2 separate regions of the Homo sapiens genome follow, and region 2 is linked to region 1. Evidence: fine-mapped expression QTL. A gene starts in region 1. The other region holds a variant in brackets. All regions are shown on one strand. Distances are between the middles of the regions. Region 1 holds the start of MAML3 (mastermind like transcriptional coactivator 3). Region 2 overlaps MAML3 (mastermind like transcriptional coactivator 3).

Evidence for each region.
Region 2: its variant is fine-mapped to the expression of MAML3 in whole blood (INTERVAL, PIP above 0.99).

What each region holds. Positions count from the first base shown.
Region 1 is chr4:140,144,853-140,161,501 of GRCh38, reverse strand. MAML3 (mastermind like transcriptional coactivator 3) reads left to right here and starts at 7,318. Exons shown (of 5, transcript NM_018717.5): 1 at 7,318-8,642. The coding sequence starts at 8,175. RefSeq lists enhancers at 9,757-10,599, 10,600-11,444.
Region 2 is chr4:139,863,270-139,879,918 of GRCh38, reverse strand. The region is part of intron 2 of MAML3 (mastermind like transcriptional coactivator 3); the gene reads left to right. Among named protein-coding and RNA genes, the nearest start is that of MGST2, 210 kb to the right of the region's middle. RefSeq lists an enhancer at 4,014-4,737. The variant C/G (reference allele first, on the strand shown) is at 7,342.

The sequences.
Region 1 (16,649 bases):
TTGGGCTCAAGTGATCCTCCCACCTTGGCCTCCCAAAGTGCTGGGATTACAGCCACCACCTCCAGCCTCTCCATTGTTTATTTGAGTATGGATGAAGTAGATGGACCCATTGAATTAAAAATAAACATATGTTTATTGCAGCACTATTTACAATAGCAAAGACTTGGAACCAACCCAAATGCCCATCAATGATAGACTGGATAAAGAAAATGTGGCACGTATACACCATGGAATACTATGCAGCCATAAAAAGAATGAGTTCATGTCCTTTGTAGGGACATGGATGAAGCTGGAAACCATCATTCTCAGCAAACTAACACAGGAACAGAAAACCAAACACCACACATTCTCACTCATAGGTGGGAGTTGAACAATGAGAACACATGGACACAAGGAGGGGAACATCACACACCGCGGCCTGTCGGCGGGTGGGGGGCAAGGGGAAGGAGAACATTAGGACAAGTACCTAATGAATGCGGTGCTTAAAACCTAGATGATGGGTTGATAGGTGCAGCAAACCACCATGGCACATGTGTAACAAACCTGCACGTTCTGCACATGTATCCCAGAACTTAAAATAAAAGAAAAAAAAAGAGAGAAAACACACACACACACACACACACACACACGCACACACACAGTAAAAATAGTTTTAAGGCTTAAAAAAAAATATATATATATATATATACACACTTTTTTCTTTTTCTTTTTTATTTAACAAACCAGAAGGCATAGTTTAATTCATGTGTGTTAAAAGCACATTTGGGCCAGCTCTGGTTTCCATACATCCTAGGGTTGTTGGGAATATCACATTGGTTAATATATGGAAAATGCGTTGGCCAGTAGCCGACACCTGGCTGTGATGTACAACAAATATGAGCCCCTTCCCCACCTGACAGACAGCAGAGTGCAGTTGGGGTGAGGGGATCTAAGAGGCTGGTTCTCCTCCGCCTCTCTTCCACCTCTGCACCTCTCCAAGTCAATTTATAGAATACCCCAAACCCAGAGACACAGCATTTTGAAATATAAATCATATCGCACTATGATTTTCTTATATTGCATTCAAACAGTTTCTATAGGATGGCAGTGCAGTGCTGCTCTCCTCGGGGGCTACTGCCTGGCACTGGCCACACACAAGTCCCTTTCTGATTTTGTAACTTTGGTAAATTGTGTGCTACCATTCCCTCTTTCATTTACGTGTCCCCCACACACAGTTACAGAGCTCTGTCATGGACAGCCCTGTGTTAGGTCCCAAGACCAATAAAACACAAGTGAGACATAGACAGGTAAATAAACAGTTATAATAGAGTGTAATAATATAAGTACAAAGACAGAAAAATGCCCACTATTCTCAGAGCACTGAGAGGGTGGCTAGCTCAGAATGGGGGCTGAGGGAAGCATGGCCAGAGACAGCTTTCTACAAAAATGACTCCTCAGCTATAACCCCTCTGCAGCAACAAACTTCTGTTAAAATGAGATCTGGGTAAAACACAGTAATTTTATTTTATTTTATTTTATTTTTTTGAGACGTAGTCTCACTCTGTCACCCAGGCTGGAGTATAGTGGCGCCATCTTGGGTCACTGCAACTTCCGCCTCCCAGGCTCAAGTGATTCTCCTGCCCCAGTCTCTCGAGTAGCTGGGATTACAGGCGTGCGTCACCATGGCTGGCTAATTTTTATATTTTTAGTAGAGACCGGGTTTCACCATGTTGGCCAGGCTGGTCTTGAACTCCAGACCTCAGGTGATCCGCCTGCCTCGGCCTTCCAAGGTGCTGGGATTACAGGAGTGAGCCATCGCCCCCAGCCAAAACACAGTACTTTTAGTTTTGTAAAAAGGTAGAATCTTAAAATGAGAAGGAACCTTAGGAACTTGGTTACATATTTCTTCCATAGCTTGGTTCAAATTGGGTCTCTGCCATTTTTAAGCTGTGTGGTTTGGGGAAAGTTCTTTAAGTTTTCTGTGCCTCAGTTTCTATATCAGTGAAATAGAGGATAACAATAGAACCTGGAATAGAGCAAATTTTCAATGACTGTTGGCCATCACAATTAATTATTTCTAACGTTAACAGTTTAGCTGATTATGGGCCTTCAATAAATTTAAAAATTCATAAATATTTTCTTTCAGAAGTCTTCAACTTTGTATATGAAAGCCAGACATTGTTCAAGTCAGATGCCTTATTATATTATTTAACCGTGAGAGTAGAAATATATATGAAACAGAATGAGAGACTTTTAAAAAATTTCTCTGCCATGGACTTTAGATAACCTTTCCCCTAATAACCATGAAACTATTATATACATATTAAAATACATGAATAAGAAAATAAATCCTATTAATTCATACTCCTCTCAAAATTTATGACATGGTCTAGGACTTAGTAAACCCCTTCTTAATAAAAAATGAGAATTAACAACATACACAGAATCTTGCGAGAGGTATTTAAATACTTAAGAAAGCAAATTTTTGAAACACCCCTAGTTCATGAGGCATGTCACCTATATGCAATTGCTTCATAGGTAAAAGGAGATCATTAAAATAGCTCCAAGAGGCCAGTTTTGTTAGGCTAGACAGAGTGCATGCTTCAAATGTAATGAAAATCTATAGCTTTAAAGATATTACATAATCTTTTCAGTTAAATAAGGCCAACCTTTTCTCCTAATAAGGAGGTTTTATTACACAGGGATAGATATTAATATAACATACTCAAAGTACTAATGCTGAAAAAGGCTAGTCAAATTCACCCTTTTGGGATTTTGCCTTTGTGTTGCTACTTCCTCAATATTTAAAGGTCAGAATTCACACACCCAGCTGAGGTTAGGAAGGCCCGGGAGATCTGGACTAGTGATTCTGGTAGAGCAGATGGCAAGGGCCTTGTGGTCGTTGACTTAGGCTACGTGCCCAGGCAATTGTTGTAAATTTAAGTGGATTTAGAACTGCCTTCAGTTTTCACTCTCTCCTATACCACAGAGCTTTCTAGAGTGTGTTCTATTCTGTGGGACATAACAGGATTTTGGCAATGTTAGGTTAAACAAAGTTAAACATGCTTTGCTTCAAGATTTCTTGTGACCTTCAATGTGGTAATAACTCTTTGGAGAGATGCAGTACAGAACATGTCCTAAACTTACTTAGCTCAGAAGCCTTTCTGGTAAAGCATCTTACGGAACCAAGTTTTTCAGACACACTTCTGAAAACGCTATAATAATACATCCACTGCATTGCCAAAGTAAACAGTGTAAATCAGCTTAAGTCCTTTTAATGGCAGCCATTGTCCCAAGGATATAGTCTAAACTGGATGGCCTTGAACAATCCAGGTCCTGCTTGTCTCCCCAGCCTCCATCTCATTTCTCATCACACTCTTTCACACTCACAATCGTGTGAGAAGGAACTACCACTGGATTTTTTTGGAGACGGATTCTTAGCTCCTCCAAGCATGCACTCTTTTGCTTGTTCCTACACCCACTCCATATTAATTCTATTATGGCATATACTGCCCTGATTCTAGTTGGCCGTCATTGAGGTTGGGACTGTGTTCTATACACTGTTATTATGCTGTTCACCCAGTGCCTACCACAGTGTGTGGCACACAGAAGGCCATAAATATATTCATGGAATTATTGAAATGATACCTATTGCTAGACAGCTGAGGGCACATCCCCCGGCTGCTAGTAATTTAGGAGTGCCTGGGCCCCACTTTGGAAAGATATAAAGGTTTGGTTGCTCATATGTGGGCAGCAGAGGGTTCCTATTCTTCTTTAGCCACAAGATACTCTTTTATGAAAGCAGATCTATTGATCCATAGTAAGAGGGAAACAGAGGGGGCACATAGACTGGAATTTCCGCACAAAGGTCTCTTTCTTGTCACTGGGACACTAGGCCTTCTCAGGTGAATATAGGAAGATGACACAGACTTGGTGTAAAGGAAATGGAACCTGGTTGAACTCCTCAGAACTGCCAACTTTGGCTCAGAGCCAGGACAACAGGATAACCTGGTGTAGCTACTTATTCATCAAGCCCTTCTTTCCTTGGCATCCAGAGAGATATCATCACAGTTGGGGATGCAGTCATAGTAATTTCTTTCTCATCACTGCTATGGCATCTCAATTATTATTATTATTATTTTTTGTCATTCAAGAACAATAGCATTGATGCTGTGTCTACCGCTTTCATCCTGAAGTTTTGCCTTGTAGCAGGCTCACAGAAAAGACAAAGATGGTCATGCTGTCAGTGTTGTGCTGTGAGAAGGGACTAAAATTGCTTCTCCAGAACTTGGATTTCTCTATGACTTTCAAGGAGTTCTTTAGGAAGGTGACCAACAAAGCTGGAAACCTTGCAGGACCATATCATGGGATCTGGAAGTAGCCAGCATAAAGGTCTCTGTTTCTTCTAAGGTCACTGGAGTAGATCAACATCTCTAATTCAGGGTGACTGGCATATGTTGCTCAAGATGCAAGCCTTGCTTGCTTCTTGCTTCTTTCTTCTAATCTTCCTGCACAATGAGAATGGGGTTTCTGACCTCTGGTACGTCACAGCAGAGTCCTGCACAGGTCGGTTTCTCAAAGATTCTTCCCCTCTGGCCATCACACAGTTTCACAGTTCTTCCTTTCCCCACATCTGGGGCATGGAGCTTGTGGCTGCCACTCCCATTTTGGAGAGATGAAAGACGGGTGCCTGTGTGTGCGCTTGTTTGTGTGTACACATGTAACAGTTTTTCTTTTGGGTATAGCCCATTCATGCACTAAAATCAGGCAGCAAAGTATACTGTGGTTGTGCAAGAAGAGCTTCATTTGTCATTGGGGAACTCTGTGGTAAAACCACAAAGTGTGCTGTCCCACCTGCTGGTTCCCCAAAGGGAAGGATGCAAATTCTTGTGTCTTTTTGGTTTCCCTTCATGGTAGGAGAGGTAAACAGCTTGAAGGGAATACATGGTGCTGCTATTGTTGTCATTTTTTCCCCAGAATGAGAAACTCTCAATGAATAATTAAATTCTGAGTCACAGGAAAAAGCTAAAATGAGAACCCAAGTCTCAAAAACTAAAGACCCAGTGCTTAAGACCCTCAAATTTGTTGCCTCTGTAAATCAAACTGCAGTCTTTTGTGGGTGATGGAGGCAAGTGAAGGAGGAGGGATAACAATTAAACTACAGTGTGGCCAGGCGCAGTGGCTCACACCTGTAATCCCAGCACTTTGGGAGGCCAAGGCAGGTGGATCATCTGAGGTCAGTAGTTTCAGACCAGCCTGGCCAACATGGTGAAACCCCGTCTCTACTAAAAATACAAAAATTAGCCAGGTGTGGTGGCGTGCACCTGTAATCCCAGCTACCCAGGAGGCTCAGCCAGGAGAATCACTGGAACCCGGGAGGCAGAGGTTGCAGTGAGCCAAGATGGCGCCACTGCACTCCAGCCTAGGCAACAGAGCAAGACTCTGTCTCAAAAAAAAAAAAAAAAAAAAGAATTAAACTACGGTGAAGAGAGAGCAAAGCGAATGCAGAGTCATAGCTTCCCCTCTGTGGCGAAGCCATGTGTTTCCTGAGTTAATAGAGATATTATTTAGTGAATATGTGAAAAAGATAAAGGCCACTTTGCTACCTCTTTTTCTAATTTCTTAAAATTCTCTACATATTTTCAGAATCTGAACGGGCTCTTTTGCTACAGACGTAGTCCAGTTAAATTTTCTGACTGAGACTTGAAGAAGGGCAGTTTGATACAGAAATTTGTATATTAACTAAATAGCCTTCAGAAAAAGTGTGGCAACTTCAATGAAATATACACTCTCTTAAGTTGGTTTTACTGCTTAGAAGTAGCCTCACACCGTATTAAATATTTTGCTGCCCATTTTGCCATATATCCAGTGAATATTAAAAATATCGTTCACTATATAGAACTGATTAATTGAAGAAAAATATAGCTTCTTATCGCTGACATTATGAGGTTAGAAATAGCATCCTGTGCTAATCTGCAATGCCAAGAAATGAAGATGGTTTAAATCAGATCTCATGACTAATGCATAAGATCCAAAGTTCTTTTATTCCTGGCTATTTTAGAAAACTGGGGTGTATTTTTACCCTAAAAACTAATTCTTAAGATTTATTGAAATAATACAAAATGACTTATAATTAACATCTCACAATCAAGATTTATAGTTTACTGATTATTAGAGAAATAATAATTTCTCCATCTTAATTTTTAAAAATATGTATATGCAATGGTTTAAGTCCATATTCAAGAATATTTGATCCTTAGTTGTTATTTTTGTTTTTAGATAATATCGGGAAAGATAATGTGCTTTAATAAAATGGAAAGTTTAGATTGATTTCTGCAGTTGCTAGTCCATTTTAATTGTACTTATTGTGAATTCATTGAAATGGAAAGAAATATATCCAGCAATAAAGTAGGCCTGTTATTTTTGCTTGTTTTTGTTTTGGTCATGACAAACTGTGAAATGCTGTGTTTTTTCTATAGTTCTAGTCTATGAAATCTGCAATCTTTCCACTTGATTTACGAAGGACCTTAATTACTGCTGTCATTAGCACCTAGTGTTCAAAACAGTCTGTTTAAATGTACTGTTAGTCTCACCTCCAAGTCCCTGCTTGCTTTATTTTTTTCCAAGGGTAAGTAAAACAATAATTGACTTAGTAACAACAATCATTATGTACAGTGAGTTAAATATTACACATTTTTGATGCCTATTTCTATTTATTTAGAATTTGGTATTTGTGTGTTCAGTCTGGCCTAGACTTGGAACAAGTGTCCGTAAGTAGCGCTGTTACTAGCGCAGACTTATTACCTGGGTTTTAAAAACAAGTCACTCATTTGCCTTTTTCTTTCCACATGGATAGGGATGACAGACAACTGCTGTAAAGCTTCAATGTTTCTGCCTGGTCATGCACAGTTCTGCAATATAATGCATAAATGTATAACAACAACTTGGGATCGCTTGATACTTTCCTTGGAATAAGGAAACCCTACCAGGCGCGTCCCCGCGCACGCGCGCGCGCATACACAGACACACACACTCACACACGCTCTCACGCACACACACAGGTCAAAAGTTGATTTATTTCTGAGATCCCCCCAGAATCTTTCTTCTCTCCGTCGCCGACGGCTCTGGGCTTCTCGGCGGGGCGGTAGTGTGGTTGGGGGCGTAGGAGGGGCGCCGGGCGCCGAGGCGACGGAGACGGGAGCCGGGTGCTGGTGCGTGCCGCGCCCGCTCCTGCCGGGTGAGAGTCCGGGCCGGGTTTTGCGCCGTGTCCGCGGGCCTGTCTCACGGCCTCCAGCCGCCGCCGCTGCCGTGTTTACTGAGCTCGCGCGTCCTGATATCACTCCGCTGGCATGGAGGAGGAGGAGGAGGTGGAGGAGCGAGAGGAGGAGGAGGAGGCGGCGGCGGCGGCGGCGGCGAGCAGTTGATCATTGTGATGGTGGCAGGAGCAGCGGCGGCAGCGGCAGCCCAGCCGAGCGTTAGGTGCTGCTCTCTGCGCGGCGTTTTGCAAAGGACTTCACCGATCTACTTTTGCAGTCGCCTCGGACTGTCCATGTGTTTACTTCCCCCAGCCCGAGGATTCGATATCTAGGTTCCTGTGAAATGCAACTGAGCAGCCAAAGTACTTTGAGAACACGGGGCGGCATAAACACCAAAACTTTTTTGTGGAAGGAAAATGCAATAAGCAAGCTTGCCGTTTTCCGATGCGGTGTGGAGTGAGTGTGTGTCGCGCGTGTCCGCACTGGAGGCATATGCTTGTGTGTGTACATGGGGTGTGTTTTTCGGTATGTAGGGAGAAAATGCTTGCCAACCACCGGAAATCTCCTGGAATTTATTAGAAAATAATGGATTATAAAAAGAAGGCAAGCAAGGAGCGGATCTCCCCTTGAGTTGCAACCCGATTTGCTGCTGGCTCAGTTTGTTGTGATTCTTTTTGTTGATAGGTGTCTGATGGTATTCCGATAACGTTCCCCCCTTTTCTTCCCCTTGAGCTTTTACAGTTTAAAAAAAGGAAACAAAAACCACCCCAAAATCTCCCCCCCCGTTTTTTTCGCCCCGTCGGGATCGCCGTTTCCATCCATGTGCTTGCGTCTCCCCCGCGTTCCACTTAAACTATTTTAATCCTTGGACCCAAGGAGGAGGCTGATAGGGGGGTGGATAAAAAAAGTTCTTCCAAAATAGTGTGCCCGGGGAGCAGGATGGGGGATTTCGCAGCCCCCGCTGCTGCCGCGAATGGCAGTAGTATTTGCATCAACAGTAGCCTGAACAGCAGCCTCGGCGGGGCCGGGATCGGTGTGAATAATACTCCCAATAGTACTCCCGCTGCTCCGAGTAGCAATCACCCGGCAGCCGGTGGATGCGGCGGCTCCGGGGGCCCCGGCGGCGGTTCGGCGGCCGTTCCCAAGCACAGCACCGTGGTGGAGCGGCTCCGCCAGCGCATCGAGGGCTGCCGTCGGCACCACGTCAACTGCGAGAACAGGTACCAGCAGGCTCAGGTGGAGCAGCTGGAGCTGGAGCGCCGGGACACCGTGAGCCTCTACCAGCGGACCCTGGAGCAGAGGGCCAAGAAATCGGGCGCCGGCACCGGCAAACAGCAGCACCCGAGCAAACCCCAGCAAGATGCGGAGGCTGCCTCGGCGGAGCAGAGGAACCACACGCTGATCATGGTGAGGGCGCACGGGCAGCGGGCTTGCGGCGCGCGTTGGGGGTGGTGGTGGTGGTGGGGGGCGCGTGGAGCTTCTTACATGGGGGTACAAGGGTCTGATTTGCACGGTGGGTGAGGTGGGCTGAAGCCTAAGGGTTAACGTCAACTTTTCTTAGGGAAAAAGCTGCCGTCGTCGCTACCTGTTAATCTGTCAGGGTTGTCAGATTTGGGGAGGAGGGGGCGAGAGGGGAGAAGCCAGTCACGACTGCGAGGGGCGGAGGGAGCCTAGAGGAGCGTCGGAGTGAGGTGCTGGAAAAGTTTCCCCCCTTCCCTTTCTTAAGATACCGATTTGAAAGAGTGAACCCCTGAGTTGAAACCTTGCTCCTCCTCTTCGCCGCTCCCCACCCCACCTCTAGCCGCGCCGCCTCGCCTCCCCAGACCCGTCCCCCTACGCCCACCCCTCTCAGCACATCCGCCGGGTGCGTGGAAATATTGATGCTGTCGCAGGTTCTGGGCGGGCACCAGGCCCTCAACCCCTAGGGGGGAAGCGGGGAAGGAGAGCCTCTCGCCTCCTCTCCCCAGCTCACCCCCTTTGGGCTGAGAAAGTCTGAGAGTTTTGTGAATGAACTTTGAAGTGGGTGAGAAACGAGCGAGGGTGGCTGCGCGCGGGGGTGCTCGCGGGAGCGCGCGCGGATGCGGGGCGCGGGTGCGCTCCGCTCTTTGCTCGCGACTCGGGGCTAGCCCGGCAGGTGGAGCGGCTGGGAGGGTTAAGAGGGGAGCGGCCTGGAGGGGGCGGGAGGGGAAAGCAATACCCAGGGTTTGCGCCAAGAGGCCCCACCACACAACTTCGCTTGGGATTCTTTCCTTTTTTCCTTTTAAACTTGCGTGCACGGAGTCTTTCTCCGCTTGGCGCCCCCTGCCCCGCTGCCCGCCAACTTTGGGGGCCTGCTTAATAAGCCCAGAGCAATGGAAGGTAGCAGGGAGGTAAAAGAGGCTTAAATGGCTGGGTGGGCGGGTTCGAGGTAGGATGAGCAGCCAATGGCTTAACTTCTCCAGGAGGAAGGGGCAGTTCCCACCCCCCAAGCCGGAGGCTAGAATCCTTTCTCTTATCTCCCCTCTCCGGTTCTTTTGCTTTCCTTTCTGGGTGAGGGGAGGCCGGAAGCTTGGGAAAGGTGTGTGCCCCCCCCCCCCGCACCGCGCCGCCCGGGTGCTGGGTGGGCCAGGCGACGGGAATCCTGGAGCGTGCCGGGGCCGCGCGCCTTCGCCTGTTTCCCGTGCAGACCGCCCAGCGATCGGCGGCGCAGAGCCCGGCAGGGGCGGCCCTCCCGTCGTGCGGTTTAGAAATCGCACACGTTCCCGGTCTGTGAGTCCCCGGCGCCGGGGTGGTGCCAGTGCTGCCGTGGGCTTTCGCCGGGGGCTCGGGCCGGCGCTCGGTGACAAAGAGTCGGCTTGGGGGAGGGGAGGCGACGCCGCAGTGCTCGCTCCCCACGTCCCCCCACCCCGCACGTGAAGAGGAACAATTTGTTTATCTTGGGCTTCAAGAATCCTTCCCTCCTCCCAGTTCTCCGGGGGCGCTCAACCCCTCCTCCCTCCCCTCCCAGGTCGGCGCGATCCTGCCCAGTCCCGCCGGCAGCACCTTCCCTCCTCCTCTTCCTCCTCCCCCTCCCCTTCCTCCTCCCTTCCTCCTCCTCCAGCCACTCTTGCCCGCCTTCTTCCTCCCTTTTGGAACGTGGCCGTGGGGGAGGGAGCGGGAGGCGCTTTGTCCGCCTCGCGGCCCAGCTCAGACCCCGGGGCCGCTGGGCTGGGAGGGGTGCTGCGCCCCGTGGCCCTGCCCGCTTCATCGCGGCTGTCCCCGCCCCGCCGCGCCCCCCATGCCCCCGCGTCCCTCCTCTCCGCTCCCCCTGCGGCTGAGCCTGCCCCGAGCGCGAAGAAGGGGCCGTCTCGGTTGGTTTTGAGGAAGAACGACAGTTCGAGTCGGGGGAGGTTCTCGCTTTACAAACAGGAAACCGAAAACCACTGACACACTGTAGTTTTTCTGATTGTAGCCGGAGGCGGGGCCGGTCCCGCATCTCGACTGTAGCTCCGGTCCCTTTCTCCAACCTATTTCTCTCCCAGCCCCCGCCCCCCTAGCGCCCTTCCACGGAGGAGGAGATTCACTTTGTGAACCTGAGACTGAGAATTTAAGAGGCACTGAAGGTTTCATGCCTGCCCACCCCGCGTCCTCTTTTCGTGTATTTGTACACCCCACGCGCATGGATTGCGGAGAAATGGGCTCCTTTCGGGAGGCTCCAAAATTCCCGTGCCACAGAATCTCTCACAACCTTTGGGGATCAAGGACTGCTGTGGCGTTTACCTCGCCAGCTGGGGGACCCTGGAACAAAAGCCAGTGCCGTTCCCAGTGCCGGGTCTCTGGACACGGCAAGATGAGTAGAGTTTGCGACCAGAAACTTTCGGTGTTTGGGTTGTGTTCTCTGGTTTCCGCCCTGGTGGAGGGAGGGCTCGGGTGCGCGCGCCTGGTTTGTGATACACTCGCAGGTGGAAGCAAGCCCAGCCTCCTGACCTTACTGGGAAGAAGACAGCAAGCCCAAGCCACAGCTTACTTTTGAAAATAGAAAGATAATGCTTGCTTCAATAGACAGAGACATCAGCTGTAGATTTCATAGTGAATCCCAGTTTAGCAAATTAGCAACAAATAGACTTGAAAGATGACTGCGTGAAAATAAAATTTTCTGTCATTTTATGACAATGATTTAGCCTGTTGATTAGACTTACGCACTAATAAATGCCAGGGCTGTGTACAGAATAGGAGTGTATTTTAGCTTCAGCTGTTTCACATGCATCTCTCACTGGTATGTGTGATGAGTGTGATGAATGTAATGTAAGCCTTAACTCTTAAGCAGAGTTGCAAGTAAATTCTGTGTACCAAAAAAAAAAAAAAAAAAGAAAGAAACATGCTCTACAAGTTATATTTCCTTTTAAAATAATTAGTTTAAAAGTTAACCTTGGCTTCTGAGAGTATTTTAACAGTCTGTATTGAGGTAAAATCTCAAAAATAGAGGTTGTAAAGAAAACGTTGCTCTTCATTTTCTTGAATTGACTGCAGGATTATAGTTGTACTCCAGTGAGGCACAGAACAATTAAATGTAGTTCTCAGATTGGGCGCTCTATTTGGAAAGCCCTAAAGAAAAACAATGATCACCCACAACCAAATAATAATAACGGTGATATAAAAATAAAGATGAATAGGATTCTTTACTGTTTCATTGGTATTGTTTACTTTCTAAGGACCAATATGTCCGAAGTACTAAATATCGATTAATTATCTTTCTGCCTCGCTTGGATTAAGAAGGCAGTCTAATGAGGGCTTTGCCTCTTTTGATTTGTTTTCCTATCTTACACATTTACAAGAATGGGCATGAAAAACAACAACAAAAAAATAGCAAACAAAAAGCAGAGTGGGTGAGGGGTAAAAAATTTTCCTTGGCTCCAGGCTGCCACAGAGGGGGCTGGGTTCTGTGTGAGTCCTCACCAGCCCTGTTGATAGAGCAGGTGGCACAGACCTGGGTTTGAAGCTGCACTACCTCAGGTATTAGGTCCGTTCTGAACATGTAGTCAAATGATCCCATCCCAACCACCACCACTTTATTGACATAGTTTTTTTCTTCCCCTCAAAGACTTGGTGAAAATTATTGACTTCACCTATCAGAGAGCCTCAGTTGAAAAGATGGCTTTTAATTATTTGTGGTAACAAAAGGGGGCATTGTTTATTTGCTGTATTTGGAACTGAGGTCCTGGTTAAAATTTTAAGGCAAATTTCAATTGACAAGTACATTTTCAAGCTGAGCAGGCACATCAAAAAGCATGACAGTGCACAGTTTTCAAAATTTTAAAATGGTGATAGTCTTAGTTGACTTAGATAAGACCATATTATTTTCATGACCTCTTCACTGTATTAGCACCATCGTAACTTTCAGAGTGTGCTTAATTTATATACAGCTTACAGACTGCATAAATCTATGTGACCCCTGTTCTGAAGAGCTTATCACAAAAAATTCATAACATGCATTTAATAATAAATGCGTTATTACCGAGTATTGGAGACAACTACAACCCATCCAAAATGTTCCATCCATTCCTGGAATAGATTCAGGAAATGTCAACATATTAGTCCACTGCTGAATGTCCTTATACGTTAATCTGGCTTCCCATTTCTTACCCTGTTGAAGGTAAATTACTGGCTCTGTATCAATTTTTTTGGCAAGCTCGTATTACCAAGCTATTTCTACATCTTCCCTATGATAACCTTTTCTTTGGCTTATCCTGTTCTGCCGCTAGCATGGGTAACAGGACAGACTGTCTTTCGGAAAGCTTTCCATTGCCCAACACAGCATGCCTTAAGTTTGTGGAAAACTTTTTGAAATTTTGTTTTTTCTGTCCTTCATATGTATTTTTTTCTTTTAATTCTCAAGAAGCATTTTTTTAAGCTCCAATACATGTTTAATTCTATTATGTTATTTGGTTGTGGTATATTTTATTTAGTACTGGGCAGCCAGTGGTCAGAAAAGTAGAAGCAGAGTTAGTTAAGCATTAATCATAATCTACAAAATGCTCTTCAAGCTGAGTTCCTTCCCAGGGAAAGCCAAGTTTTCAGGAAGCTAGTATGCTTGATACTTTCTATCCTGTCTCATTAGAATTATAAGGGCAAACTTTAGAATCTTTTTTAGGATTTCTGCCACCTGATAGGAGAAAAATGGGCAGTCCTGTACATAGTTTACTGACATCTCTGGAAGAAGAAGGATGAGGAATTTAATAGTAAAATAGAGTTATATGGAGTTATTTTCTGAATATCGCTGTGAGACTAATGGCCAACTGTTGTTAAAGAAGTTTTCCTGCCCATTTGGTTGAGATAGGAATATAAGGCATTTCTCTCTCTCATGCATGCACGTGCACACACACACACACACATTCACTCATTCACTCACTCACCCTGGTGTGAGTGTCATAGAAGGGATCCAGTGTAAGAACCTGTTTTGCATGTTAAATAGTAATTCTTGGATATATTTGAAGTACTTGTGTGATTACTGTTCCCTGTTTGTTAAGTAACAGTCCTGTCTTATACTCTTGAGCTTAAAAAGGCTAAATTCTGTTGTCTTTTTCCACATTACCCATCTTGGAGAACTGTGAAATCAATCAAACAGACATCAGACTCTTATAAAGAGGAACATATTTAAAACTCACTGTCAAGATTTTCATAGTGTCTACCTTTTAAGTCTCCCAAATAGCTTTACATTTTTCACTCTATTATTCAAAGGCTGATGGTTGAGTTTTCAGATCCCCTGGCTGCTTGCTTTGTTTTTCCTTCCCCCCACCTGCTGCCAACCTTTTGGTCTTTTCAGTGATCTTTAACACCGTTATCAAAGAGTGGGAAGAAGCAATAAGAAGAGAAAAAATTTAATTTTGGTGCTCCTGACTCTCAGAACTAATGAAACAATCAGATACAATACCATTTTGGATTTAGTATGGATTTGCCTTTATTCTTACTTAGCACAAATAATAAAGACTGAGTTTCTAATTTCATTCATTCATTCAGCAGCATTGGTACATTGTCCATAGTGTTTCATGGAAGTTAAGATACTAAATCACGCTCTTGCATCCAAGACTTTGACAATATATATTCTCTGTAGATTTTCAGTATTATTCTAGCCAGATTCAAGGGCGTAACAATTTTTTTTTTTTTTTTTTTTTTTTTTGAGATGGAGTCTCACTCTGCCGTCAGGCTGGAGTGAAGTGATGCAATCTCGGCTCACTGCAAGCTCTGCCTCCTGGGTTCAAGTGATTCCCCTGCCTCAGCCTCCCGAGTAGCTGAGACTACAGGCATGTACCACCACGCCTGGCTAATTTTTTGTATTTTAGTAGAGACAGGTTTCACCATGTTGGCCAGGATGGTGTCGATCTCCTGACCTTGTGATCTGCCCACCTCAGCCTCCCAAAGTGCTGGGATTACAGGTGTGAGCCACCGCACCCGGCCAGATTTTTAAAAATCAGTATAGTCATTGGCACTAACGACAGCAGTTTCAGGCTTCAGGGTGTTATATCACCTTTCCATGATTTTTAAGGAAAATATTATAATATGCTTTACTTTCCTGTTGTTTCATACCAATTTGACATTGGTATCTGCCAAATAAGTTAATTTGCAGATGACTGCTCCAAAATTACAGTATCCCCCCACAAATTAAATTTTTATTACAAATACAGCCTGCTTTCCAGACAGATTCCAAAAATTCACTATTTAGTTTTGTGACTTGGAAATGTAGCTTCTGAAAAATCAGCTGTCACCAAGAACTGATTAATTTAGTTTAATTTTTTTGTTGTTTAAATCTAAGAAAGTTTAAAGAACAAAAGAAATAGGGTTAGATAAAATTATGCAGAAAATGGAGTTGAGGGCCTGCTGTATAATAAATACTTAAAGATCATGGGGTTCCATTCAGTGGATCAGAGAAGGAGCACACTTTTTTTAAAGTCTACTTGGCAATTCCATCTGTTAAACAGTGGAGGGGTTTTTGAGTTCCTTTCTCCATTTGGGACAGAAGCACAGCATTCGGCGTTCTCTGAGGGCCGCATGCACGCATGGATAGGAGCAGGAAGTTACTACTATGGCAAGCTGTGTATACTATTCTTGGAGAAATTTAATTAAAAAATCTCAAAAGGTGGCCGGGCACAGTGGCTCATACCTGTAATCCCAGCACTATGGGAGGCCGAGACCGGTAGATCAGTTGAGATCAGGAGTTTGAGACCAGCCTGACCAACATGGTGAAACCCCGTCTCTACTAAAATACAAAAATTAGCTGGGGATGGTGGCACACGCCTGTAATCCCAGCTACTTGAGAGGCTGAGGCAGGGGAATTGCTTGAACCTGGGAGGTGGAGGTTGCAGTGAGCCGAGATTGTGCCATTGCACTCCAGCCTGGGCAACAAGAGTAAAAATCCTTCTCAAAAAAAAAAAAGAAAAAAGAAAAAAAAGGCCAGGCGCAGTGGCTCATGCATGTAATCCCAGCACTTTGGGAGGCCGAGCGGGCAGATCACGAGGTCAGGAGTTCGAGACAAGCCTGACCAACATGGTGAAACCCCATCTCTACGAAAAATACAAAAATTAGCCGGGCGTGGTGGCGCATGTCTATAATCCCAGCTACTTGGGAGGCTGAGGCAGGAGAATTGCTTGAACCAGGGTGGCAGAGTTTGCAGTGAGCTGAGATCGTGCCACTACACTCCAGCCTGGTGACAGAGTGAGACCCTGTCTCAAACAAAACAAAACAAAACAAAACAAAACAAAAAAATCTCAAAAGGCTTGCAGTACTTCCTCTGACATAAAGAAAGTGATTCCTCAATAATAATTTAGGCACCTTTTAATTATATTGGACCTCCCATTGATTGGAAATGACCTTTATGCTGAAGTAGAACCTTTTAAAATGCTAATAACTAACATTCATCCCCCTTTTGCAATGGCTTAACAACTGTAGAAAACTTAAGTGAAATATTTAGTTTTTAACTACCAACTTCCAGAATTTTCCTAACTCCTTTTATTGCCATCCTGTTGAGTAGAATCTGGTTGTGTATCATTTCATGTTTATGGACCCTCCACCCCTCAACTGTTAACAGTGTTTTACTTCCATGGGTAAAGGAGGTTATTAGGTTACACTGCTGTGTATCTCTCCTTCCCTTTCCCAACATCTTTCTCCACCTCCCGAGCACGTCTGGACAGGGGCTTCTATCTCTTCAAAGGAAAAGGCCGAAGTGCTCTAAGTCTATTTGTGTAGATTCAACCTGGGTTGCAACTGTGACTCAAAAGGATTGCACAGCTCTGAAAGACATGCTCTGCTTGTGCCCTTTATTCTCACTCTGGTTGGTTATTTTTCTTTGTTTGTTAGATGCTGAAAGTAGCTCAGCGATTGAGAGTGAATCTAAAAGGCTGGGTACCCAGTAAAGGGCTTGAACTAGTGTTAAGGTAGGAGAGGCAAAAAAGGATGAGCATT
Region 2 (16,649 bases), 280 kb after region 1:
TTACAGGCGTGAGCCACCACACCCAGCCCGAAAGAGGTTTTAATTGCACTCCTATGAAAATACTCCTTAAAGGTTTTAGGGGATGAGAATATTCTTGTTTGCTGAGAGAGCTGATAACCCATCGAACAGTGGTTCTGAAACATTTATGGGCCTAAGAATCACCTGGGGAAAGCATTCAAGATGCAGGTAATCAATCAGATTCCACTGCCAAAGGCCCAGAATCTGTAGATCTGGGATGAGGCCTGGGAATGTGCATTTTAATGAACATCCCCACCCCCCCGCCCACATCTCCCAACCACTATCACCACCACGACCATTTTCTCCCAACCACTACCACCACCACCATTTTCTTTCTCTTTTTTCTTTTCTTTTCTTTTCTTTTTTTTTTTTTTTCAGTCAGAGCCTCACTTTGTCACCCAGGCTGGAGTGCAGTGGCACAATCTTGGCTCACTGCAACCTCTGCCTCCTGGGCTCAAGCGATTCTTGAGCCTCATCCTCCTGAGTAGCTGAGATTAAAGGCATACACCATGATGCCCCACTAATTTTTGTATTTTTAGTAGACATGGGGTTTCACCATGTTGGCCAGGCTGGTCTCGAACTCCTGACCTCAAGTGACTCATCTGCCTCAGCTTCCCAGATTGCTGGAATTACAAGCGTGAGCCACTGCACCCGGCCACCACTACCATTTTCAAATGGAGAAATAGTACATAAGATAACACTGCGGGCTGGGCGCAAAACAAACAAACAAAAAGCAACATAACACTGAGACTGCAGTTCAAGCAGCCTGTGTTTATTTCATTGCTAAATATTTGTATATGTTTAAATATGGCAGTTATTGTCCTGTTGATTCTCTGAATAGGACAAAGTAGTCTATCCTCCAGTGGTCCCTTCTCCCCAGTCCCAATGTGGTGAAGAGTGGGATTTTTCCTCCAAGAGAGGGTTTGTTATTCATTTTTCTGTCTCAGGATTTAAGGGCACAGTCTTATAGTGCCAGGCTGCTTTCCTTAAGATCTATAGAAAGACAGACCGCAAAGGAATGGATACTACACACATTAAAGGCGACACAAGGCTTATGTAGGGCCTCTTTCGGGCTGTTCTCCTCAGAGCAAGACTGCTCTCAGGCACAGAGGTCAGCCACAACCCTGTGTTCCGTGTTCTGATGCTCAATCACATCAAGGATGGCAGACAAGCAACTTTCCCAGGTGCTCCTGAGCTTCAGGGAGATGTTGCCTCAGCCGGATGCCCAACTTCATTCCATTTCCAGACTCTTAGATTCCCTTCCTTTCAAGGTGCATTCTGCTACACCCTAGGCCCCTACCCAGTGCACTCACAGGTAAGAGAGTAGGCCCAGCTTTATTTTTTCCCAAGAGGAGCCTACTAGCCTAAGGGTTCGACACAGGTGTAGAAAATTGTAAAATGGCCAATCATATCCTCCCTGTGTATATTCACTCCTCAAAGTCATGATATTATGGACCAAAGCAAGATACCAAAACAGTGTAACCTAGAGTGTCCAGCAATGTGCAGTCTGGTCAGGGAGATAAGGGCGATACAAGGGAGCGAGTAGTCAGTGCTACCTTACTAAATTTTACATTCAGGATTCAGGGCAGGGAGAACAGCAAGGGTCAGTGCAGCCTGGAGAAGACAAGAGCAGCCTCCAGAGGGCAACTGAGCTTCGAGATAGACCAAGAATGAGTAGGAGTTGGCGGGATAGAGGGTGGGTAGAAAGGCATCCTGCTGGCGGCAAAGCATTATTCCTTCCGTGGCCAACTTAGATTATAGCCAGGCTGGAGGGAAGGGTTCCGGTGCGGAATAGCGAGGCAAAATTTGAATGGGAGAACATTTAGAGGACTTTCTACTATTTTGAGTGTGAGACAGTAAGAATGTCTATCTGGACACAGCAGTTAAAATTTAAGAGAACAATGGCCATAGTGGCATTTAGAGGGAAGAAGTAACAGAACTTGGTGCTTGAATAAATGACAAGATAAAAGGAAATGAATCAAATATTTATGATCATAAGATTAAATATTGGGATGGTATAATAGTTTCTGAAAGATGATCACATGTATACATGTAAATAATCAAATCTTATTTACAGTATATTTAAAAGCAATTTAAACACGTAATTTACTTTGCTATTATTTATCTTATTCTTCTGTTTTATATTTCCAGTTTTCTGAGGTACTACTTGTCCCACACTCTGCAAAAGGTGTGAAGCAAGCTCATGGCTATTTTTTAAAAAGTTTTCGCAGCATTGAGCCACAAATAGCTACTCTGTGCTTTATGGTTGGGCTTTTTGTTTTTAGGTGTTTATTTTTTAGTAAATTCATATCACTATGAAAGTGGTTGTTTTTCTTAGAGTAATAACAGACTATCATATGTTCCTTTTGCTTAATATTTTTATTATAAAGATTTACTTCATCATATCTTAGCAATTATTTGAAGAGAGTCCTTTCTAAAGATAGTCTTTTGGAGCACACTTTAAACAGTTCCAAGCTTTAAAGTATATTATGTCATCGTTCATTAACTATTCATACAACTCTGGGCTCTTCTAGAGGTTATAATACTCTTCGGGGGGTGGGGGGAAATGCTGCTTTCCTATACAAAGATACTCTATTATATTTTGGTTCCTGGGCAAGATTCTCTAGAATTCATCCTCTTTATGACAACAAATGGTTTGCAGCGGATCTAGTACATAGAGAATCAAAATATCTTTCATGTTAGTTAGATTTCCAATACATTGTCATGATTAGTTAATATGACACATGAGATTATGCAATTTACCTATATGTTTTATTTAGTCAGCAGTAAATAGTGACCCCAAATTATATCCAAACTAATAACTCCCATTTATTAATATCATGATTTCCTACAGGAGGTTTTATAAACATATCTGCATTCTCTAAATGCTCTTCTTAGATCTGAGATGTTTGGGAATTTATATGGCCTGCTTTTCTGCACTGGGCTCTGGCCAATTCATACAAAGGATGTTTTAATGGGCTTGCTAGGCCAGGAGTACTTTCAGTGCCATGTGGAAGTTAGTCAGGGGTGCAAGAAAAAAGATTGCCTTGGGTGTAGAGTGCAGTCCACTTCAGGCAACGCCTCTGAGCCGATAAACTGCAGCCCCAGCCTGCAGGCACCCCAGGTGTGATGGCAACCCCTTGTGTACCCTCTGCTGGACACTGTTGTGCCAGGCACAAACTGCACAGCCATCGGTGGCAGCCTGGGTCCACATGATCATTCCCTAAAAGCCACTGTGAGTGAGAGCTAGGTTTTAGATCAGTGCAATAAGAATGAGTTACATGTGCCACAGAGTGCCAAAGTGTGCTCTTGCTGGGGCCAGTCAGAGCCTGTACTTCAAAGCCTGCGAATAGAAGGGTGATTGAAGGCCCTGGAACAGGAGGCGATTCACATCTGAGTGTATTGCAGCCTTCCTGGTAGATAGTGTTAGTTTCAATATCACCCATTGGTAAGAGTTTCATTAGTGTGGCAGAAAAAGTCCAGAGACAAGACTTGGAAACACACTTGCCCCTTGCATCCCTCTCAAAGCAGTGACAGGTTTAGAGTTTCCAAACTCTAGAGCAGCACTGTCCAATCAAAATAGAATGCAAGCCACCAGTGCAAACTATGTGATTTTTAAATTTCTATTGGCCATGTTGCAAAAGGTAAAAAGCAGCTGGTGACATTCATCTTAATATATTTTTATTTAACCCAGTATATTTAAAATATGATTATGTTAACATGTAATCAATATAAAGATTACTAATGGCATATTTTACATACTTTTTTTTTCATACCAAGTGTTTGAAATCTGATGTGCCTGTTATGCTTATAGCACAGCCCAATTCGGACCAGCCACATTTCAAGTGTTCAACAGCCACATGTGGCTAGTGGCTACTGTGTTGAACAGCGCGAGTTAGAAAAACACCAAAAATCAGTTCTGTGATCAGAAAAGTAATAGGCAAGACCAGAGGTGATTTTTTTTTTTTTTTTTTTTTTTTTTTTGCTGTTTGTGAGTCTCTTACTCTTTACATTGCCTTTTAAAAACTATGTAATCCTACACTGGATGGAATGAATTAGTGCTTTCCAGTGCCCTCCGCCTGGCCAGGCTCTGGATAAGCCAACCCAGCCGGCTTTGTGCCCATGCTGTTAGAATTCACCTGATCTGTGTGGCTCACTGCCTTCAGAGATTTCCATGGCCATTTGTGTGTAGTGCAGCTGCTTACTGGGAAAGGAACGCCCTTATTCATGACACCCTGTAGTCAACATATAACATTTGTGAGCAGCCCTGGGGCCATATAAACATCCTGCTGTGAGGTCAGGAGCACCTGACCCCCTATTAACATGTCAATGAGAGTGGCTGGTGCGCTGGGCTTGTTTTCTAGGGTTTTGATGAGCCTCATTAATTATGTTGAGAAAGAAAGGTGTGCAGCTGGAGAAGAACCCACTTAGCTCCACGTGAACATGAATAATTGGACAGTTGGCAGAGTGTTAAATTGGCGGTCTAGTGAGAGAAACTGGTGAATAAACACAATTCCCCAAAACACTGCAAAGCAGTCACAGTTCTCTCCGTTTTTGCAGCGCTCCCACCACTTCCACCTTCTCCTGACTTGAGAACTGCCTAGGTATGACATCAGGTAGGATCATATAAGGAGCTGCCTTCGTAGGGAGGGTGGCAGAGTGTAGAGGTCGGGAGTCAGCTCTGAAGCCACAACAGATCTTCAAATCCTGACTTTACCACTTCAGAACTTGCAGGACCTTGGGCGGGTTATATAACCTGTTTGTACTTTAGGTTTTCATCTAGAAGATGGGGATGATCAGCTGGGCATGATGGCTCACGCCTGTAATCCCAGCACTTTGGGAGGCCGAGGTGGGCAGATCACGAGGTCAGGAGATTGAGACCATCCTGGCTAACATGGTGAAACCCCATCTTTACTAAAAATACAAAAAATTAGCCGGGCGTGGTGGCAGACGCCTGTAATTCCAGCTACTCGGGAGGCTGTGGCAGGAGAATGGCGTGAACCCAGGAGGAGGAGCTTGCAGTGAGCTGAGATCGCGCCACTGCACTCCAGCCTGGGCGACAGGGCAAGACTCCATCTCAAAAAAAAAAAAAAAAGGAAAGATAGGGGATGATAATCAATAGAGATATTAGGATGACTCTGTGTATTAGTTTACGTTAAGCATTTAAAATAGTATCAGACCCATAGGATGTACTGTGTTTTTAAAATTAAAAACATTAATCATATCGTGTGATTTGTACTTTTTTAATCCTCTAGGAGAGTGTAAGTTTCTTCAGTTTTCCTTTAAGCCAGTTTCATTCATTCATTCATTCATTCAACATATTTTATGTGCCTGTGGTGTCTAGGCATTGTGCATACAAAGATAGAAAGATTCTGGAAGAAATATATTATCATATATATGTGAAAATTTTATAGACAGGGACTGTAAACAAAATGGTAAAAGTGTATTACTGTTCTCTTTTAAAAGCCAACTGTTAGCAAGTTTCACTGGTGATTTTTTTAAAAAAAATCAATCTTGGCTCTGACAAGATTGTTCCTCCTGCATAATTTACCTCTATTTAAAATAAAAACTATTTATTTTTCATATTTTAAAGTACAATATTAAAATGCCATCTTTTTTGTTTATGTTAAATGATTTTAAATGAGGAAAACATCTCAAGACATAATCTAGCCACTCCCCACTCCTAACTCTAGAGGTCTGTTAGACTCTTTGAGGCCTTACAGTACCCTCATTGTTTCTGGTACCTCAGTAGATGAGAAAAATCATTTCTCTTTGTTAAAATCAGAAGCTAAAAAAGAAGGTGGGATTTAATTTACCTGAACATTTTATAACATCTGATCCATTTACATATTAAATGCAGGTAAACACATATTCCAAAATAATGAAAAGACCTTTTAATAAAACTTAAAAACTTAACTCCAAAGTAAAGAAGAGCTCTATTGGAAAGATTACCATATTAGTTATCTATTGCTGTGTAACAACTTATGCTCAAAACATAGCCACTTCAAACAACAAACATTTATTATCTTACATGGTTTTCAAGGGAATGCAGGAGCAGCTTAGCTGGGTGGTTATGGCTCAGGCTCTTCCATAAGGCTACCGTGAAGCTGTCAAGTGGGCTGCAGTCATCTGAAGGCTTGACTGGGGCTGGAGACTCTACTTCATATGTGGCTCCCTCCCATGGCTGCTGACTGGAGGCCTCAGTTCCTCACCACATGGACCTCCCCACAGGGCTGCTTAAGTTTTCTCATGACATGGCAGCTGGCTTCCCCTGAGTCAGCTTCAAGAGAGACCAAGGAGGAAGCCACAGTTCATTTCATGACATACTATCGAAATCACACACCTTCGTTTCTTCATTGTTTCATTCATTAGAAGCAAAATAATTTAAGTCCAGCCACACTCCAGGAGAGAGGGATTAGGTTCTCCCTTCTGAAGGGAGTGTCAAGAATTTGTGAACATATTTGTGGACACCATAATGACCATGAATGGCTTTGGCATTTTATAACATGCTTAAGTGGTACTGGCTCAGGAAAGCTTAGGATGGGAAGAACTGAGCTGGCAAAGGTGAGCAGCTCCATTTTTGAGGATACATAGATCAGATGTGCTGGAGTGAGAGGAGGGATGAAATCATAGGCTCCAAACATACCAGAAATTTCTTTTCTTTCACTTAGCAGTCCTGGACCTGATATCAAAGCTGTGCCACATAGCAGAGAAGCAATACAACATTCTGTGGTCAAATGTGAAGCCTTGCTTTTATTTAAAGTAGGAAACAAAATATCTGCGTGATTATTTATTTATTTATTTATTTATTTATTTTTTGAGATGGAGTCTCACTCTGTCTCCCAGGCTGGAGTGCAGTGGCACAATCTCAGCTCACTGCAACGTCTACCTTCTGGGTTCAAGCAATTCTTCCTGCCTCAGTCTCCTGAGTAGCTGGGATTACAGGCGCCCACCACCATGCCCGGCTAATTTTTTTAATATTTTTAGTATAGACGGGGTGTTGCCATGTTGGCCAGACTGGTCTCAAACTCCTGACCTTAGGTGATCTACCCACCTCAGCCTCCCAAAGTGCTGGGATTACAGGCATGAACCACTGTGCCCGGCCGTGTGATTATTTTTTTAACTCTAAACCCAACCTTGTTATTGATAGGATTTTTATTTCTGCCTTAAGAATTCTTTCCATCACCTTTTCATTTTAAGACACTTATCATTTCTATCCCTTCCTTTGTCCCCTGTGCTGTCCTTCCTTCTGAAGTTCTCACCCGGAAAGGCATTACATCTTTGATGCTGCAGTTCACTTCTGTGTGCACCCCTGAGTTCTTC[C/G]AGTACATCCTCCAGTTCCTCTGCTTTCCATTTCACAACCTGGTTACAGTTAGTCACACTGTAACTTCCTGTTACTGAGTATTTCAGGGGCCAAAGCTCTCTATGCCCTATGCTGTCCACTTAGTCATCTCTCTCCACATTTGTATTATTCACAGCAAGATGCATGCACACAAATCCTTTAAGTCCGTCAGGCTTTTCTTTCCATTTCCCATTCAAATATGAATCACCTAGCAACATTTATTGAAGACCAATTGCACATGAAGCTGTGTTCCCATTATTGTGAGCCTCACAAAGGAAGTAAAAGCCATGGTCCTTGCCATTAAGAAGTTTATCCTCTACTAAAAGCTGGATTAAAAAATTTTTTTTAAAATAATAACAGCATACAGATTCCCGTTTATATTCAATAGAGTGAAATGTTGTCCAAGTTACAATGATCAAATGCAAGGGTTATTTCTCTGTATACCTTTTAACTGAGAAAGCTAGCCATCTTTTGGATTAGGTAAATGCATGTGCCTTGATGAGAAATACTGCTACAAAAAATTAGTGCCTGCTGTTCACTTCCTAGTATTGTAAACACGTTTCACCCAATCTGGTGAAATTTCAAGGCATGTTTTTGAAACTAAAATAAATAAATAAAACATTTATTAATCCTCTGTAACAAAGATACACCCAATTAATGTAACAAGTAGTTACAACCGATAACTGAAGCATAAGCAAAAGGATAATTGTATTAGTGTCCTAGGGTTTTCTTCTTTTTAAAAAGACGTCAGCACTGTGCATTGTTTTACCTTATTTTTAATGGACTGTTGATCAGAAAGGGGAGTAGGGAAACTGGGTTGCGAAGGGTTAATAAGGAACAAAAAGTGCAACCTGAGGAAGACACAGCTCAGGGAGGAGGACCCAGGGGAGTGTGGAAGCCCCTCAAAGCTCATTAGAGAGATTCAGCTTGTGATACAAGAAGCAATGGGTAGTCATTGTAGGTTTCTGAAAAGAGGAGAGTACTATCTCGATCAAAGTGATTGGCAGGAGAGATGCTAGGAAACAGCATACCTGGAACAAAATAATTAGGACCTGACTGCGTGTGACCCTGGAAATAGGTCCAAAGAAAAAGCAAGAGATTGTGGAAGTGACTGTGGGCAGGGGTGGGGACAGGAAAGGAAGAAAGGCGTCAAATTTGACTTCCAAACCTCCATACTTAAAAAAAACTGAGGATGGCCATTGGTTCCTGGCAAAGTGAGAGCTGAATTGACCAAAAGTTGTTTACTCTAATTGGCTTAATTGTCATTTGTACATGTAATGAAAGTTATTTTTCTGTGGAGAAATAAAGGAGTAACAGTGTGAATTTGGGGCTTATCTAGGTGGTAGGTAAAGAAAGACATATGAGTCGAACCACTTCTTGAGGAATGTCATACATGAGAAAAAATGTATAGTCTAGCATCAAGTCTGGAGATAGCTAGAACTAATGACCATGAAAAAATGATATACCATGAAAAAATGATAAGCACACAAGAAATAAAATGTGTGTATTGTGTGACTGCATGTATATTTGTGTATGTACACACAAACATGCATTCCAAAAACATCTGAAAACCCACTCATCATCATGTTAGCCCTAGGTAGTTCTAACTAATGGAAACACAACTGATACTTCTTTTCCTTTCTTTCTTTTTTTGCTTATCTGAATTTCCTCATTTTTCCTGTTGAATGTATATTGCTTGTATAAGTTTCTTCATAGTGAGAAATTGTTTTAAATCTTTGGTGAAATGAAAGATATAGATACAAAAATTAGTCAAGTGTGGTCCCAGCTACTTAGGAGGCTGAGGTGGAAGGATCTCTTGAGTCCAGGAGGTCGAGGGTACAGTTAGCTGTGATTGCGCCACTGAACTCCAGCCTGGGCGACAGAGTGAGACCCTGTCCAAAAAAAGAAAGAGGTAGGAATAGAGTTTTCAAGGTCAGAATTTAGAACAGAGGGAGCCTTGAAATAAGGCTCAAGATGAGGAAACGAAGACCCTGATAGTTATGGGATTTATTGCTAGGCTTTCAAAAGAAGAGTATGCATTTTCTAATGCTTAAAAAGCAATTTTTCATTTCAAGGCTTAAAAATATTAATAAATACATCAAAAGAAGAATGGAGTTATTCTCATCTGCTAGAACTTGGATTGATCTAAAGCAGTGGTTCTCAACCTCAGATGTTTTGTTCCCCAATCACCAACTGGACATTTGGCAACATCTGGAGATAGTTTTGGTTGTCACAACTTGGGGGCCAGGGGTAGGGTGGGGTGAGGGGAACGGGGAATTGACGCTGCTACTGGCACCTAGTGGGTAAGAGAGCAGAGATGCTGCTAAATATCCTACAATGTACAGGACAGTCTCTGCACAACAAAGCATTATCTAGCCCAAAATGTCGATAGTACAGAAGCTGAGAAACTCTGATCCACAGTAAGGTACATATTCACAGTGACCATTCATGGAGCGCTTTATGTGCCAAGACCTGTACTAAGCCCTTGACATGAAACATTTAATCTTCAAACGATCTTGAAATTCAGACATGTAAAGTTAAGTAGTCTGTTTAAGGTCATATGGTCAACACTAGAACTAGGAACCAAAGCAAAGCCTATTTGAATCCAAACCTGAGCTCTTAAACCTTATGCAATTTTGCCTACATGTTGACACTCACCGAATGAAATGGGCACAAGAAAGCCATCTCAAGATCACAGCCAACATTCTGATCTCATATTTTTTTCTACTGTTGCCAAGGCAGTGGCCTGTTAGCTTCAGAACGTTTTATCTCCTAGAAGGTAATAGGTGGTAAAACAAATTGCAATTCTTTTCTATATTTCTTCCCCCTCACTCTTCCCTCCATCCCATCTTTCAGATAAAGGTTTCTTTTTTAATGAATATTACGTGTGTTTTGTTGGAGTTTGGCCGCGGGGGTGGGGTGGTATTTGGTTGGTCATGCACATAGGTGCTGGTGTATTTCTTGTCTGCATGCCTTTTGATCATGGAGAAATACTCTGCAAATGTCTGAGAATTAGTACTTTCTAGCATCATTTTGGCAAGACATTTTTATTTAGCTCTTATCCAGCTTCTTGGGTCTTTTCACCTTTATCTCTGGATAAAGAATTCTTGTCTGCAGCATCCTAAAGTTACTTCAGCCTCCTTGTCATTTTCACTGAAGGACACTGCATATTAAAAACAAAAATTTTATTGCCTTCCAAAAGCTGACTTCCTTGGGTCCTTGAGAACATAGATCCGCAGCTCGATGGATCTAATTGCTTGCTTGTCAACTGGAGTAAAGAGTAGAGTTCCCCAGTATCATGTACCTTCTGCTGCCAGCACTCAGCCTTTCTTTTCTGCAAACTAGGATTTTTAAAGAAGTTTGACTTCCATATACTAAATTGCTATGGAAGCAAAAGAATTGGAACATACCAATCAGGCTTGTCAATCTATCTTCTCTTTGCATGCTTTCCACACAAACATGGGATTGAAATAATCTGTTCTAATGCTGACATGCAGAAAGACCATAGCACAGTTCTTGAGTGCCCCACCCATTTCTGTGGCTCCCTTAAGATTATTTTAGCAATTAAACGTCAACAGCAATAAATAAAATTGAGAAAGAAATTTGGATAAACCTATGCACAGGAAAAGACTTATTTTAGAATTCTTTTCCTGTGAGCTTTTACTGTAAGGATTGTGTTTTAATACCACTGCTATCACTCGTGGAGAAGGAGAATTTTATTTGTCTCCTTTATCCTGTTTTGATTTTTAGAGAGAAATTTTACCAGTTCATTTTTTTTTCACATTCTATTTCTTTTGACACAAAGTTATAAAGACAAAATGCCACAATTTTTAAGTGAAGACAATGTTTCAAGCATTGTTCCACATACTCTGCACACATTTCCTCATTTAATCTTCACAAGGCTTGTCATAAAGGTATTATTACCTCCATTTATATATGAGAAGACCGCGGCCTAGAAACATCAAGTGAATTTTTTCTAAGAGCACGTATCTAGTAAATGGCAGAGCAGAGATTTGAACTCAGAGACCTTTGAGTTTAGGGCCCAGGCTTTGCTTAACTTCCGTGTAAAACTGCCTTTTAGGTGACATATTAAACTTGAATTTCAATGTTATGATCTTTCAAAGAGCTAACAGCACTTTCACATTTTAATTTATTTTCGTAGTATCAAGCTGAGTAGCTAAGTGGAATGAATTCATAATGTCAAATGAATCTTGAATGATCCTATGACCAAACTTCCATATATATCCAATATCAACAGTACTGTCTCTAAATTCCTGCTAAATTTGTAGGTAGTATGCCTTGCAGATTGAACAGGGAGTGTTTCTTATACAACTTGCACAGTTGATTGCACAGTCACCATTTTCCTAAATAGCTCCTAAGTGTAATCAGATGGTCTAAAACAATATGTAGGATTTTAGTTTAAAAAGTGTGGCTGTTTTACATGTATACATACACACACACTCACACCCACAGATGTGTTTCCCTGTTTCCCACAGTGCCTAACACAACCCTAGGTACAAAAGAAGTGCCTTATAAATGCTTGACAGATTGGACTTCTCTCTAGAGAAATGTGAAGGAAGAGAACTCAATTCCAGAAGAATAATTATGGTATGCTGAAGCAAAGACCCAGTTCACTGATTTTTGTTTAAGAGTCCCGGGGCAGCCAGGCCATCCCACAGGGGCTGTGAAGGCAGTGTGGGGCGGTGGCCTCAGCCAGGGGATGGACCTTCACTTACCAGCTGCAGGGTCTTCAGTAAGTTATTAGCTATCCTTGAATTTCATACATATTTCTTAACTTCAGTTTTCTCATCTGTGAAATAGTGATAATAATATTCTCAAAGTTAAATTATTATTTTCATTGTCATCATTATTATTTTAGGTAGGGCACCAGAGAAACAGAAACCATTTTATTGAAAACTTCCAAATTTGGAATCAACAGATTCTGGTTCAGATCTCACATTTGATGTTTAACAACTATGTGCCTGGGGCAAGCCTCTCCAGTTTCCTCATTGGCCAAATGAGATGATAGTGCCTACCTTGCAGGCAACATTAAATATGGTGACTGTCAGGAGCTTGGTATGTAGCAGATGCTCAACAAATGTTAACTCTGATTATCATTTTCTGCTTACCAAAGCTGGTAAATTACTTTCCTAGAACCTTAGCTTCATTTCTGTGGCACCCTCTAGGCCTATGGATTTTAACTTTTTTTTCTTTTTGAAGTAACACATCCCTTTGAGAATGCAATGAAAGCTACAGCAATATCACCAGAAAAATACACATTCCCAAAGCAAACATGGACACATTTGCAGGGGATTCAATGATTCCTGGGTTAAGATTTTCTGGTTTAGGTCCAAGAGGGTAAAAAATACATGACAATCCAGACGGAATGGTTATTGGCTTTGTAAAAGGATTTATTGTAGTATTCCCATTGCAACTTTCCCAGTATCATTAAAATCGGATTCCATTTACAAAAACTGACTTTATTTAGCACATTTCAAGAACACATTTTATTTCATTAAAGCAAGCCTCTTTTAACAAAACATATTTATCAAATGCCCATTATGTGCCTAATAAGGTGGTGGGTGCTGCGAGGAACAAAAGAAGCTTAACATGTGGTCCCTGCCCTCTGCGTTTCTTTCTAATTGGAAAGGCAAGTGAACAAGGCAGCATGAGATGTATTAGCGCTATATGCTGATATAATCAAGTACTAAATTGTGTATGCTTGTGTGGGTGGGCGCACAAGCCTCACATATCATTCTCTGACCTTGAATTGTACACAAATCATTAGCGTCAAACTGGAATTGCCGACTGCTCCCCCACCCTTCGTCTTCGCTTGGCTGACTTCCATCACAGCCTCTCCCTCTATGTCTGAAACATACTTTAGAAAAGAGGGGTGAAACAAGACAGTGAGGAAGAGAGAAGAATCAATAAAGAAAAAAATAGGTCACCTGTCTGTGGTTACTGCCGCAAATAGATTCCATCTTGGGCGGGGTCTGACCCAGGAGCCCCCAAGCTCCGTGAAAACCTCTCTGGGGGACACACAGCAGCTTATCTTCCTTGTTTACAAATTAACTGCCTTCTGTCGGTGACTGAGTCTGAAGAGGCAGAGGGATGGTGCAAAGAAGGCCTGGCTACCAGGAATAGGCACTCAGCCACACTGAAGGTCCAAACTTTGTTCTGTATTCACTGCCTAAATCCATGTGCATTTAGCACTGGAGAAGATCTGCAGGAAAATCGCTGGGTGAGGAGAGACAAGCGTGTCCCTCCCTAACATTTGTGGAGCCCAAGGCAAGAGTGCAGATGTACCACAGGCCTCATCCTTAATTGTTATACTTCAAGCTAACAAACAATTAAGTACAATATGTCCTATCAGCTGATCTTGACAAGTATACCTTCGTGGCCACTGGGAAGGCCAGTTTGATGTAGAATCCCTGCCTCCTGGGGGTTCTGCAGGTTGGGTTCCCTGGACCACCCAATTCCCTTTCCATCCCTGGCTCTGTGTTGTACCTCAGGAGCTTCCTACATTTGTGGGACATTCCTGGCCATACCTCCAAGGTCCACCTGCATGCCCCTTGGCCATTCTTTGGGCCTAGAGGTGCACACAGCTGTGTGGCCACCTTCCAGAAGACGGACCTGGGAAAACAGACTTGAAATTCTCTAAGCAGAGAATCTGGGGCTCCGGGTATCCAAAGAATGGTCTAGAGGTGGGAACACAGGCTCTTGCCTTGCTTCTGCAGACTACTTGCGGTGGTAGACATGTATGTGGTCAGAGGAGGACCCAAGCAGGCTCTCTAAGGCTGAGGCCAGCTCAGGAGCCCCTCAGTGCGCATGTCTAAGGCGTAACTGCAGAAAGGAAGAAAGACTTGGTGAGGAGATTAAGGCAGAGTCATTAAGACTGCCTAGTTCATTTTGGGGGGAAGAGGATAAGTTGGGAAGAGTTAAACAAGAGGAAAAAGAGGCTGATGAAAAGAAGGGAGAAGCCCAGAACCTGGACCACTTCTACAAAGATAGGGACTCCTAATTTATTATTGTGTTTAGTTAGAGAATGAAAAAAAAAAAAAACAAAAAAAAAACCTTTTACAGAGGTCAAAGGGCTCTGTAATTCAGGGACAAGGGATATGAAAGGCAAAAGAAGGATGGTTTTGGAGCTAAAAGCAGGGACTAGGAATGATTTCTCCCCAAGGTCACCTGGATCCATCTTATTTCTGCACCTTCCCCTCTTTCATGATGGATACTGGACCCTTGAACCATTCAAGAAGAAACATTCCACCTTATTGTATCCCCTAAAAGAAAACACAACTGAAGGTTAATTTTGATTCTCCAAGGAGAAAAAGAATAACTATTTAGACAAATAAAGTGAAGTATTTCATTGAATTTTTAGCTAGACAGAGAGAAGATAGTTGCTGTATTTGAAATTGCACTATTTGCAGAATTAAAGAGGAAAGGATATTTTAAATTTTGCCCAAATATGCTTGGTAGAACTGAAGGAAACTCTAATGATATTTCAACATTATAATTTGTCTCCATTTCACAAATTCTTTGTTTTATAAATAAAATGTTTGAGTGATTTAAGAGGGAAGAACATAACAAGTAAAGCTTTGTGGCAAAAAAAAAAAAAAAAAAAAAAAAAAAAAAGCAAGTTTGCATTACTATTTTCCTAAATGTATTTTTATCCATATTTCACTTTTTTTCTGATCAGCTTACTAGTCAGAGAATTTGAGATTCCTTGAGAGTCCTATAATTCTGCGTAACATTGTCCCTCTTGCTCCCAAACATGTTGATGGCAATTATAGGAAGTGAGTAAGTGAACATAGTTGACTTTTAGTCATCAGGAATTTATCATTCAAGATTTCTTTTTCTTTTTTTTTTTTTTTTTTTTTTTTTGAGACGGAGCCTCGCTCTGTCGCCAGGCTGGAGGGCAGTGACGCGATCTTGGCTCACTGCAACCTCCGCCTCCCAGGTTCAAGCAATTCTCCTGCCTCAGCCTCCCAAGTAGCTGGAATTACAGGTACACACCACCACACCCAGCTAATTTTTGTATTTTTAGTAGAGACAGGTTTCACCGTGTTGGCCAGGATGGTCTTGATCTCTTGACCTCGTGATCTGCCCACCTCGGCCTCCCAAAGTGCTGGGATTACAGGCGTGAGCCGCCGCACCTGGCCCATGAAAGATTTTTATTCATCACAAGTGAAGCCAACAAGTAAGTCATAGTATGAGTAATTAATTATTATACTGGAGTGTGAATTTGAAGCCTGTGCAAGGAACACACCCATCAGAAAGTTTGTGAATGAGCCACACCATGGCCCAGAGTCTGTATCTTCCTGCAGCCTCTGCTTCCCTGCCTGTCACCCACCTCAAAGTAGCTCTCATGAAATGATCATTTGTTATTATTCTTCATCACTATTTACCTTTTACAAATGTTATTAAGTTCATGTCTGAAATTGCTACAATAGTGATGTCATTGACACCTATGGTGAAAAATTATATTTTATGGCAGATATTATTTTACAAGCTTCTGTAAGTTTCTTTGGTCCTGTATTTGTCACATCATTATGGACCTGAAGATGTGCCCACTAATGAAATATTTTGTTACAATTTGTTGAGTTTTGTGGGGAAACTTGTCTGCTCTTGCAGTTTGTTCAAATTTGGCATCAAGAATGTTTCTGGATATATTCCCCTCCCATGTCAAGGGTTTTTAGTACAAAAAAAAAAAAAAAAAAAAAAAACCCATGTTCTGGTATTACCACAGAAAGTGAAGGTACAGAAATTAGGAAGTAAACACAAATATAGCACACTAATTGTAACTTGTTACATTTGTAGAGCATTTTATGTTCTGAGTGTTTGAGCAATCACCACTTTCATCTTCCTTTTGAGAGAGGAAGAAACAATGTTACTCTGCTCATTTTATAAATAAGAAAAGGCAGCTGGGCACGGTGGCTCACACCTGTAATCCCAGCACTGTGGGAGGATCACCTAAGGTCAGGAGTTCGAGACCAGCCTGACCAAAATGGAGAAACCCCGTCTCTCCCAAAAATACAAAATTTGCCAAGCATGATGTCACATGCCTGTAATCCCAGCTACTCAGGAGGCTGAGGCAGGAGAATTGCTTGAACCCTGGAGGTGCAGGTTGTCGTGAGCCAAGATCACACCATTGCACTCCAGCCTGGGCAACAAGAGCAAAACTCTGTCTCAAAAGGAAAAAAAAAAAAAAAAAAGGGCACAGGAAAAAGTGTGTAATGTGCCAGAAATCAGAAATCTCACAACAAACAAATGAACAAAGAATAAGACT